3 linked regions of the Homo sapiens genome follow. The main gene of each other region encodes a partner of the protein of the gene in region 2 in a complex. Each region holds a gene or a part of one and is shown on either strand. Other genes may lie near its edges.

Evidence for each region.
Region 1: MTA1 (region 2) and CHD5 share a complex: the UniProt entries of both Homo sapiens proteins name them as parts of the nucleosome remodeling and deacetylase (NuRD) repressor complex.
Region 3: MTA1 (region 2) and CDK2AP1 share a complex: the UniProt entries of both Homo sapiens proteins name them as parts of the nucleosome remodeling and deacetylase (NuRD) repressor complex.

What each region holds. Positions count from the first base shown.
Region 1 is NC_000001.11:6,145,709-6,149,448, forward strand, and holds part of CHD5 (chromodomain-helicase-DNA-binding protein 5), read right to left. Parts: intron 3,705-3,740; coding exon 3,538-3,704; intron 3,368-3,537; coding exon 3,146-3,367; intron 1,164-3,145; coding exon 957-1,163; intron 716-956; coding exon 504-715; intron 1-503. UniProt on the Homo sapiens protein: ATP-dependent chromatin-remodeling factor that binds DNA through histones and regulates gene transcription. May specifically recognize and bind trimethylated 'Lys-27' (H3K27me3) and non-methylated 'Lys-4' of histone H3.
Region 2 is NC_000014.9:105,457,749-105,461,488, reverse strand, and holds part of MTA1 (metastasis-associated protein MTA1), read right to left. Parts: intron 3,220-3,740; coding exon 3,117-3,219; intron 1,132-3,116; coding exon 1,032-1,131; intron 725-1,031; coding exon 536-724; intron 1-535. UniProt on the Homo sapiens protein: Transcriptional coregulator which can act as both a transcriptional corepressor and coactivator. Acts as a component of the histone deacetylase NuRD complex which participates in the remodeling of chromatin.
Region 3 is NC_000012.12:123,265,240-123,268,979, reverse strand, and holds part of CDK2AP1 (cyclin-dependent kinase 2-associated protein 1), read left to right. Parts: intron 1-662; exon of another isoform or gene 663-811; intron 812-1,697; coding exon 1,698-1,795; intron 1,796-3,657; coding exon 3,658-3,740. UniProt on the Homo sapiens protein: Inhibitor of cyclin-dependent kinase CDK2. Also acts as a component of the histone deacetylase NuRD complex which participates in the remodeling of chromatin.

The sequences.
Region 1 (3,740 bases), on a different chromosome or scaffold from region 2:
GGGGTTCAAATCCCAGCTCCACCCCGTGGCTGTGTGATTCTGGCGACTTAACCTTGCTGTGCCTATTCTCACATCAGTAAAACAGAGGTGAAAGTAAGACGCCTCCCTCCCAGGGTAGGCAGTGCTCAGTACAGCCAGCTGCTGTTACAAACGCGGGGGAAATGTGGACATACTCCCACACCTCGGGCGTCCCTCGTCCTCAGAACCCTCTTGCTGGTATCAAGCACTAACCCAGCATGAGGGTCCCGACGCCCCAGGGGTGTGAACACGTATGCATGAGTGTGCCGGCATGCATGGGACGGCCCCTCTAGCAGGTCAGGCAGATCTCCAGCACTGGGAACCCTGGGCCCTTCCTTGTGCCCCTGCTGTGCCCACATGTGGTTCTGCACGGCAGCCCCAAAGCAAGGGCCCTGGCACCCTGCGCTGCACCCATTTTACAGGGCAAAGAAGCTGACGTGGCCCGGCCCCAGCGATGGGCAGGGTGGCCGCCTGCAGGCACACACCTATGGTTCAGGATTCGGTGAATCATCATCCACTCTGGCTTGATGCCATAGCGGTAGAAGCGCTCCTCCATCTTGGCATAGAGGGGGTCCTTGTTCTTCCTCTTCTCGCTCTTGCCGTCTTCATCCCCAGAGCCGTAGTCAAAGGGGGGCGGCTCATCCATGTCGTTCTTTCTTTGGTAGTTGCGATACATCACCGTGTGGTACAGCTCCAGCTGCTCATGGAGCGGCACAAAGTCACAGAAGGGAGATGGGCCATGGTCCCCTGCATCTCCCTACCCAGCTCCTCTAGCCCCAGCCCAGGTCCCAGGCAGGACAATCCTCCCGCTCAGCACCACCCCAACTCCCAACAGCACCCCTCAGTCAGAGGCGCTTCAGCCCCTTCCCGCCAGCCCAGGAGGGTCCAGGGCTCACCAGGTCCCGGGCCTTAGCACAGCCACCCTCCCGGGCACTCACCTGTAGCTCCTTCACCCAGGAGCAATGCCAGTAGGACAGCCCTGCCCACTTGACAAAGAACTCTCTCTCAGGGATGCCCTCCAGGGGCTTAGGTGGAGGGAGGCTGGGCTCCACGTCAGGCCCCGGCAGCCCCACCATGAAGGGGGCAGGGGGCTCCGTCCACCTCCAGTGTAGAATCCGCTGGACTTTGCCCTTCAGTGGGGGGCACTGTGGACAGAGAAGGGTCCCCAAGGTGGGGCTCAGCTGCAGGGCCCCACCCTGAGGCTCCCATGACAGCAGGCTGCCATGCAGGCTCCCTCCCATCAGTGCCACTGCCCCCAAGTCAGAACAGTACCACGGTGACGCCATGACATCCACCCCGTCCCCAGGAGCCGCATGGGTCATGCACACAGGAGATGGGCAGTGGGGGTCTGTGAGACCACGTGGCCCTTTCACTCAATGGTGAACTTATCGGCACCCAGAATATCTGAGCCAGCGTAGGTGAGACTGCCATGTGCATAGGACAGAGGGGGAAACTGAGGCCCACTCGGCAAGGGACAGCAGAGCAGGGAGCAGAACATGAGATTCTGGACTTCCCCTACCTTAGGTCTTCCCATTGCCCCCTGAAAAGAGGTCACATCACTGTGTGATCCCCAAGCACTCAGGGAGCATGAGCCCTGTGCTGGAGCCCAGGGACACGGCAGCCCCATCCACCATCCCTCACCCGGGGCAGGGCTGCACCCAGGCACCGTGCGTCTAGGCTGGGACAATGAGGCCCCATCTCTGGCAGCCCACAGACACACTGCAGGGGCCCTGACAGATGCTAGGGTGACAGTGAGCTGCTGGCTGGCAAAGGCAAGAAATACAACAGCCACAAACCACACCACTCGGGCCCTGAGATGGGTGGGAGCAGCCTTGGCCCTCCAAGGAGGCGGTGCTGTCTGACTGGACAGGGTCGGGGGTGACTGATTCAGGGAGACAGCTCTGGTGGGGATAGCAGGTCCCAGCTTTGCTACTACCTGTCCTCGGAAACTCATCCAAGCCTCCAGAGCCTGCTTTCCCATCTGTAAAATGGCCCACCCCTTCCTCCACCTACCAGATCTGTGGTGCCACATCACACCTGAAGGCATTCTGGAGGTGCAAGGTACACCACACAGCCAGCCTTCCTTTGGCCTTGGTGACAGCAAAGGCCGAGAGGCAGAGGAGGAGGAGGAGGACATGGGAGGCAGGAAAGGCTCCTCCACTGGCTCTTGGGGGAGTGGAAGAGGGGACCCTTCCTACCCAGGCCATGGACCCTCCTACCCCCATCCCAGCCCCTCAGGGAAGAAGCTGAGAGGAACCCCACTCCTGCCCCCCTCCCATCCCCAGGGCCTTCCATCAATCCTAGGAAAGCACAGAAGGCTGCACCCCTCAAAAGGGTCCTCCCCTGGCCCCTACACAGACACAGACAAGTATGCGCACGGATGCACGCACACACATACACACGCACAATGCACACAGGACGGCCCAGGGCTAAAGGAGGCACAGCCCAGGACCTGAGGGGTGGAGGATCTGGCACCACAGGGGGCAGGACAGACAGCTCAGAGCAAGGGGCCTTCCGATGTCTACTGTGACTGGGGGGTGACGGATGGGGGGTGCCCCTCTTCCTGTAGAAACTGAGGCTCCCGCCCTAGGAGCCTCCTGCCCTAGAAGCCTCCTGCCCTCTCCCTATCCCCAGCCTTGGAACAGGAGCCAGGTCTGGGGTGGCTCCAGGAACCTGAATTTGAGTGGATAGTTCTGCCCTTGTGTGGCCTTAGGCAGGTCACTCTGCTTCCCTGAGCATCAGTTTTCTCATCTAAAAAGGGAGTAACATGCCTGGTGCCAGAATACTCAGTAATGTTAAAGGACACTATGATGGATGTGGAGCCCTTGCAGAGCACGTGGTCACTGAACAGTGGTCGCGGTGTTGGCATGATCACCACACCTGTCTGCCTTTCCCTAACACTCATGCCTCCCGTCTCTAGGGGAGTCAGACGCGGAGAAGGGCGCGAGGAAGCTATTGTGGACGGGGTCTCGAGCAGCGCGGGCGAAGCTTTGCGGGATCGGCTACCGAGGCGGGGCAGGAGCCGGCAGGGGCGGGGCCTTTTGAGGAGGGCAGGCCTTCCCCTGGGGGCGGGGCCTGTTCCTGGGGTGGGGCGGGGCGTCCGGCGCGGGGCGGGCGGAACACTCACAGTACAGCGCGGGCAGAGCCATTCACCGTTTGGGATCTCGGGCAGCGGCGGGTTGAGGCAATGCAGGTGGTAGGAGGAGGGGCAGGCGTCGCAGCAGAGCAGCTCGCCCCCGTCCTTGCACACGCGGCAGAACTCCATGTGGTCGTCCTCCTCCTCCTCGCAGCCGCCCTCCTCCTCTTCATCGTCGTCGTCCTTCGGCTCCCACTGGATCCCCTCCTTCTCCTGGGGGAGGAGGCCAGGTGGAGGCACCCTGGGCGGGGTCCCCGCTCCACCAGGCCCGACTCCCTCCCTCCCCTACAGCATCTCCCCGCATTCTGCCCCCAAATGAGGGCACAGGGGTGGGGGAGCCAGGCGTGGCCCCGCCCCCAGCCCGGGGCTCTGCCAAGGCTTACACAGTGGGGGCAGCTCCACTTGCCCTCGGGAGCCTTCTCCAGCTCTGGGTCCAGGCATACGAGATGGTAGGCCCTCGGGCAGGTGTCGCACAGGATGATCTCCCCACCCTGCTGGCACACCTCACAGTAATCCTGGTGGTCTGTCTCATAGCCGTCACCATCATCAACTAGGGTAGGGGAGAGGCAGTCATGGAAGTCCTCAT
Region 2 (3,740 bases):
ATTAATTTAGAAGTATTTTAGGAGGGCTGACGGTTGGAGGGTGGGGGTCCTGAGGTGGAGGTACAGGGAAGGGAGACCCCACGCCATGAAGACTCTCTAGGCCTGCTGCTGGGCTAAACTCACGTGAGACAGAAAACAAGGACATGAGGAGTCAAGAGGTTCAGCTTAGTCAAAAACAAAGCAAAACCAAGCCTGGGGCTGGAGGGGGCAGCAAGGAAGGGAAAGTCTCCGTGAGGATACCCTGGCCTCCGTCACCTGGGCCAACCCTTATCCTCATCACGCAATGGTGGCAGGAGCATGGCTCTCTATGCCCAGGCCCCACCAGCGCCCCCATGCCTGTCTGCTGAACCAGTGTGACAGGAAGGACTATGGCGGCCGAGCGCAGCTGAGACAGAACTCATGCAGCTCCGCACAGGGAATCAGGGTGCAGGACAGGCTCCCTCAGGGCAGAGTGGGATGTGGAGCCCACACCCCCGCAGCCTACCTGGAGATGGGCATGGCCAGCCACTCCCCCATCGCCACCCACGGTACTCACAAAATCTTGCTGAATGTCCGTGAAATCCTTCCCATATTTTTCCAGGGCTTCCTCGAAAAGGTTGGCCTCTGATGCAGACCACTCCTCCATCTCGTCCCTGCAGAGCACGGGCCCGCCCTGCGGCACCAGCGCCGAGATGGCCTTGGAGATGTCGTAGATGTTCTTGTGGAGAGTATCCATGGCGTGGAACTGCGGCAGGAGACAGCAGGGTCACCCGGGCCAAGGTGGCTTTTCCTGCACCTGTGGCACGGTACCCCCTCCCTCAGTACCTCAAGGATCCCCTACTGCAGGCCCAGCAGCACAACCCTCCCTGCACCCTCAGCACAGTCTGGCCGAGTTTGGGGTGGATAGGAAAGGCCAGTCCAGGTGGGACAGCACCTCTGCAGGGGTCCTGAATACCTGGGGCAGGTGCTGGGCCCTGGTAGGAAGAAGGGCGCAGCCACTCTGGGCCATGGGCCACCCCAGGTCTCACCTGTCCCGCCCTGGGCCCACTTACCAGGGTGATGTCTCGGGAGGCAGCTGCGGCGCTCATGTGCAGGCTGGGCTGTCGGACGGAGCTGCTGCAGTCCAGGGCCCGTGCGAAGGTGCCCACAGAGCTGGGGAAAGGAGATGCGCTGACCACAGTGTCGGCCAAGCAGGGACTCCCCACAGGCACACCGCTCCCCAGGCGCCAGGGACCAGCGGCCACGGGCAGCACGGACTCCCCCAAGGCACACCACTCCCCAGGTGCCAGGGACCAGGGGCCATGGGCAGCACGGACTTCCCCCAGGCACACCACTCCCCAGGTGCCAGGGACCAGGGGCCATGGGCAGCACGGACTTCCCCCAGGCACACAGCTCCCCAGGTGCCAGGGACCAGGGGCCATGGGCAGCACGGACTTCCCCCACGCACACCGCTCCCCAGGTGCCAGGGACCAGGGGCCATGGGCAGCACGGACTTCCCCCAGGCACACAGCTCCCCAGGTGCCAGGGACCAGGGGCCATGGGCAGCACGGACTTCCCCCAGGCACACAGCTCCCCAGGCGCCAGGGACCAGGGGCCACGGGCAGCACGGACTCCCCCCAGGCACACAGCTCCCCAGGCGCCAGGGACCAGGGGCCATGGGCAGCACGGACTCCCCCCAGGCACACAGCTCCCCAGGGACCAGGGACCAGGGGCCACGGGCAGCACGGACTCCCCCCAGGCACACAGCTCCCCAGGGACCAGGGACCAGGGGCCATGGGCAGCACGGACTGCCCCCAGGCACACAGCTCCCCAGGCGCCAGGGACCAGGGGCCATGGGCAGCACGGACTCCCCCCAGGCACACAGCTCCCCAGGGACCAGGGACCAGGGGCCACGGGCAGCGCGGACTCCCCCCAGGCACACAGCTCCCCAGGTGCCAGGGACCAGGGGCCATGGGCAGCACGGACTGCCCCCAGGCACACAGCTCCCCAGGCGCCAGGGACCAGGGGCCACGGGCAGCACGGACTCCCCCCAGGCACACAGCTCCCCAGGGACCAGGGACCAGGGGCCATGGGCAGCACGGACTCCCCCCAGGCACACAGCTCCCCAGGCGCCAGGGACCAGGGGCCATGGGCAGCACGGACTCCCCCCAGGCACACAGCTCCCCAGGGACCAGGGACCAGGGGCCACGGGCAGCACGGACTCCCCCCAGGCACACAGCTCCCCAGGGACCAGGGACCAGGGGCCATGGGCAGCACGGACTGCCCCCAGGCACACAGCTCCCCAGGCGCCAGGGACCAGGGGCCATGGGCAGCACGGACTCCCCCCAGGCACACAGCTCCCTAGGGACCAGGGACCAGGGGCCACGGGCAGCGCGGACTCCCCCCAGGCACACAGCTCCCCAGGTGCCAGGGACCAGGGGCCATGGGCAGCACGGACTCCCCCCAGGCACACAGCTCCCCAGGGACCAGGGACCAGGGGCCACGGGCAGCGCGGACTCCCCCCAGGCACACAGCTCCCCAGGCGCCAGGGACCAGGGACAGACTGCATGAGCATCGCAGGGAGCAGCCCGCAGGTGGCGAGGACTCCTCGTGTCCTGGGCCCCAGGCTGCGGAGTAGGGCCCGGCACCCACCCCAGAACCCGTGTGCGTCTAACTGAGGGCATCCCGATAGATTGGCAGCCGCCTTGGGGCTTCTTTTGGGGTTTTCTCCACCTCCCAGGCTGCTGGCAGGGAAGGTGCATGGTCCTCTCCTGGGCCTCGGCCTTCGCCCTGCCCCAGGGGTCTGCCCGGGCTGCAGCTGCTCTGCTCCATGACCAGGCCCAGCCCACTTGCTCCCAGTGGCCCAGGAGTGGGAAAGCACCTCTGGCCCATCCTGGGAAAGCCCCATTAGGGACACATGGGCAGGCACACAGGCCTGCCCCCCAGAAGGGCCGCCCTTCTATTTAATGAAGGGCCTGGACCCAGCACTCCCGAGCCTCTCTGGGAACTGCTACCGGGGGTCTCAGGGCTGCAGCGCATGGGCTTCTTGTTGGGATATGGGATCCAAGACTGTCACGTCCCCAACACCCACCACAGGGAAGGGAGAACAGAAGCTCCAGGCACCACCCCTGCTGGCCTTGCCCAGGAGCAGGACTCACCGGGCCACCACCAGGAACTGGTCGATCTGCTTGTCTGTGAGTGGGTTGTGCGCCTCCCACACCTGGGTCTCCAACCTGGACTGGTCTCGGCCATCCTCCTCGCCTACAGGGAGGAAGTGTGGCCTTTCTGAGACGGGGTCCCACGGCGCGCCGGGCCGCGCCTCTCCTCCCCGGGTGCGGGGAGCTGCTGGGACGGGGAGGGGGAAGGGCTGCAGGGCCCCATAGGTGAGGCCAGGGTGCAAGGCTGGACGGAGGCTGTTGCACACACAGGCACACAGTGGCCTCTCAACCCGGGGCTGGGGTGCACACGCAAGGGGCCTCCCAGCCCACCCAGAATGCAGGGCTCCAAGAACTGTGGCCACAAGAGATGGGAAGGTTGGTTTGTAAATTTAAATCAAGCCTTTTTATTTATTTATTTATATTATTATTATTATTATTATTATTTTTTGAGACGGAGTCTCACTCTGTCGCCCAGGCTGGAATACAGTGGTACGATCTTGGCTCACTACAACCTCCGCCTCCCAGGTTCAAGCGATTCTCCTGCCTCAGCCTCCTGAGTAGCTGGGACCACAGGCACCGACACCATGCCCAGCTAATTTTTGTATTTTCAGTAGACACGGGGTT
Region 3 (3,740 bases), on a different chromosome or scaffold from region 2:
GCTGTGCGCGATGCTACCCCCAGCGACTGGCCCTGGAGCCAGAGAGGTGTAGTGACCAGGATCAGAACCCAGGTCTGTGCCGGCAGAGCCTGTGTTCGCCATGCCATGCTTGCTGCCACATCAGAAGCTCAGGAAACTGGGGTTTGGCTGATGTAGTTAGGGGGCTCTGGGGGACATCACCCTGCCCAATTCCTGCAGTGGCCATGGACGTGCCAGATATCGTGGGCGTTGTGCGTCCCCCTCCCAAGCAACCCGCCCCTATAGCGCACGTGTCTCATCATCCGCATGTGTCTCATCATCCCCACGTGGGAGGCGTGGAAACTGAGGCTCGGAGTGGCACGGTGCTCTGCCCAGTTCAGGATCCAAGTCCACGTTTGCAGTTCCAGCCCAAGCTGGAGCATAACCCTGGGCTGCAGTGGCAGCATCCAGGGCTGGCCTGAGACTCAGGAGACAGCTCGGAACGGTCCCCGTTCTCGGAGAGAGGGGCAGGTGCCGGGGTAGCTGGCTCCCTGCTTTGGTCTCCTCTATGCTGTGTGCCCTGGGGCCACCCCTTCAGGTCCATTTCTCTAAATCGAGGGGCCTGGAGCCAGGGTTCTCCAGTGCTCCTCCCGGCTCCCCCAGCTTGAGGCCCTGAACTTCCTTCCTCCTCTGCCCCTCCCCTCACCCACACCAAGCGAGCAGCTGGTGGGTTTGGCCAGCCTGGCACCAGCTGTCTGTCCCCGAGGCCAAGTCTGCGGCGCCCACTGTGTGTGTGAGAGAGAGACCGTGTGGCTCTGGGGGCGGCAGGCGGGCAGCTGCCGAGGAGGACTAGGTAAATTCTCCATGGTTACCGCTGTTTGTCATTCTGCAGGATATCCTTTACCCGCTAATGGCCACTGGGACGCCATTGCGGGGCCGCGTGCTCCTAGCCACGGACTCCCCTGCCAGATCCAGGAGGCTGCGTTCTGGGCTGGGCCCTGCTTGGTCACTGACTGCAGCTCTGGACAGGCCCCAATGTTGCATCCCATATGTGGGGCCTCAACCCTCCTGTCTTGGGATACAGAGCCCTTGGGGCATAGACTGCTAAGAGTCTGGTCCCCTCTTTGGGGAGGGGGAGACAGGCACAGAGGGGTTGAGGGGCTTTATCTGGGGCACACAGAGGCCATGGTGTTCTCTAGATTTCTGATTTGATGTCCAGCGTGCCTGTCTCCAGCCAGGGTTGGGTCTCAAATACTCCAAGGCCTTCCTGTCTTCCCTGTCATTGAGCACAGCAGAGATTTGAGCGCATAGAAGCAAAAAGGCTTGGAAGCTCAGCCTGGTTTCGACCAGCCTATGTGGCGCTGTGGTGTGATGTGGCCTCTAGGTTCTCAGCCTCTGGGGACCAGGACACAGGGAGAGGGGATGGGCAGAGTTCAGGCCAGGAGTGGCAATAATTTTATCTTTGGGAGCAGCCCTGCTGCTTGGAAGGTTCTGGTTGGATGGGATGGAGCTCTGTGAGGACCAGCGGCTGCTGCAGAGCTGGGGATGGTCAGGTGCCTTGTAGCTACATTTCATTATCCATCTTATATGCTGGTCAAACCGGAGGTGGAGAGCAGGGTTCTCCATCCTGCTACAGTTGGTGGTGTGGGTCCTGGGCAAGGGCTGTTGCAGGACCCGGAGTCCTTGCCTTGGTACAACTGGCTGAGCTGACTCCTGGCCTCTCTCTCCCCACCCCACAGCTGGGAGTGTCCACTCGCCTTCCACCAGCATGGCAACGTCTTCACAGTACCGCCAGCTGCTCAGTGACTACGGGCCACCGTCCCTAGGCTACACCCAGGTATGTCAATGGGGGTGATGGCATGGTGGGAGGGCCAGGGGGAGACATGCTTCCCACCATCAGAGGAGAGAAGTTGGTGGAAGAGACGAAGGAGCAGAAAGGATGGGACGGAGCTTTCTCAGCCCAAGGCCCTGGCTGCGCTCCTGCTCAGAACACATCAGAGTGGAGGGCACTGGGGACTGTGCTTCGCGGGGACGTGTGAGGTGGAGGGGACAGGAGAGCACCAGGAAGGGGCAGCAGCCCAAGCTGTGCTGAGGCTCCCACCCCACGCGTTCCTCCAGTGGGCCTCCTCACTCCTCTTTCTTGGGCAAGTGAGGCCTGACCTTGATGCTGGCTCTCCAAGCTGGGACAGAAGATAGGGTCAGTTCCCACTTGCTCTCCACGGGCGCGGGCCCAGCAGAGAGGAGGTGGCCCTGTCTTGAGAGCCCAGCTGCCTTTTGTCGAGGGCCAGTATTTGAGAGTGTGGCCTGGGCGAGGCCGCTCCCTGGTTCCACCACTTTCCAGACTGTGACCCCCCACTTGGTAACTGCCCAAGACCCGGGCTCCTCATCAGCCCAAGGGTGATCCTAGTACCCCCAGCCCAGGCTGGCGAACAGCAGGAATGGGGCCGCCACCATCTCAGCTGCACCCTACATCTCCAAGGGATGAGCCGCCCCGGGGAAGGTCCCAGCGGGAAGATGCTCTCCCTGGCTGGGCCCCAGCACCAGTGTTCTGAGGTCGCTATGGAGCCTGTTCCTCGCCAAGTGGGCGGCTCCCCGGCCATGCCCCACCAGGCTGCCCTGCCCCAGGAGGAGAAGCAGGTGTGGGCCTGTGAGCGGGACCGGCTGAAGAAGCGGTGGCTGTGGGAGGCCAGGCAGAGGGGCAGCCGGGAGTTGGCAGTGCCACGTTCTGGCCATGCGACGGCGGCGCCAGGACAGGCGGGAGGCCCGTGAGGCCTGGAGGCAGTGCCGTGGGGAGGCAGAGCAGCCGGAGCAGGACGAGGACAGGACAGAGCGCGAGGCCAGGGGACAGAGGCGGTGGTGGAGGAGGGGGGAGGCAAGGACCTCGCCCAGGGAGCTGGCGTGTCTATGGGAGGAGGTGGCCAAGGGGAGGTAGCCTGGGCTTGTGGGCTTGCGGGCTTGTGGGCTTGCCGGAAGCCCAGCCTCGCTGATCCGGGTGCTTGCTGTGGGGCTCCCAGTGGTGGTGGGAGGAAAGGTTTTCTGGGGGTTGGGCCCTGTTGGTGGGAGGATGAGAGAAGGGAATGCATTCCAGGCTCTGGCTGGGCCATGGCGGATCGCTGTGGTCCTGGTGGCCCAGGTGTGGCCTCTTGTCTCCCCACTGGCTTGGAGGCTTGGCACCTGGGATGTGCCCTCCCATCCATCTGCATCCTGGGAAATGCTGTTTGGACTCTTTTGTGCCAAAATGAGCTGTTTCCCCTGTTTTGTTCATTGGAGATAATAAAGTTGCTTCCTGGAGACGACTGGGTGGCCTCCCTGAGTGTGTGAGGATAGGAGGGTGAGGACCATCTCCCTAACTTGTAGTTGTCCCCTAGAATGGGACGTGCCTTGGCCCAGCTGAGGTGGCTGCCCCAGAAGTCTGAGGCTGGGCTGCGTTCCCTATCCTGACCGGCCCGGGGCCCTCTCCACCCACCTGCCTGTGGCCTTGGGGTCAGGCTGCTGAACCCTTTTTTTTTTTTTTCCCCCGAGATGGAGTCTCGCTCTGTTGCCCAGGCTGGAGTGCAGTGGAGTGATCTTGGCTCACTGCAACTTCCACCTCCTGGGTCCAAGCAGTTCTCCTGCCTCAGCCTCCTGAGTAACTGGGACTACAGGCACGCACCACCACGCCCGGCTGATTTTGCTGAACCCATTTCTTTCTGATTCTAGGGAACTGGGAACAGCCAGGTGCCCCAAAGCAAATACGCGGAGCTGCTGGCCATCATTGAAGAGCTGGGGAAGGAGATCAGACC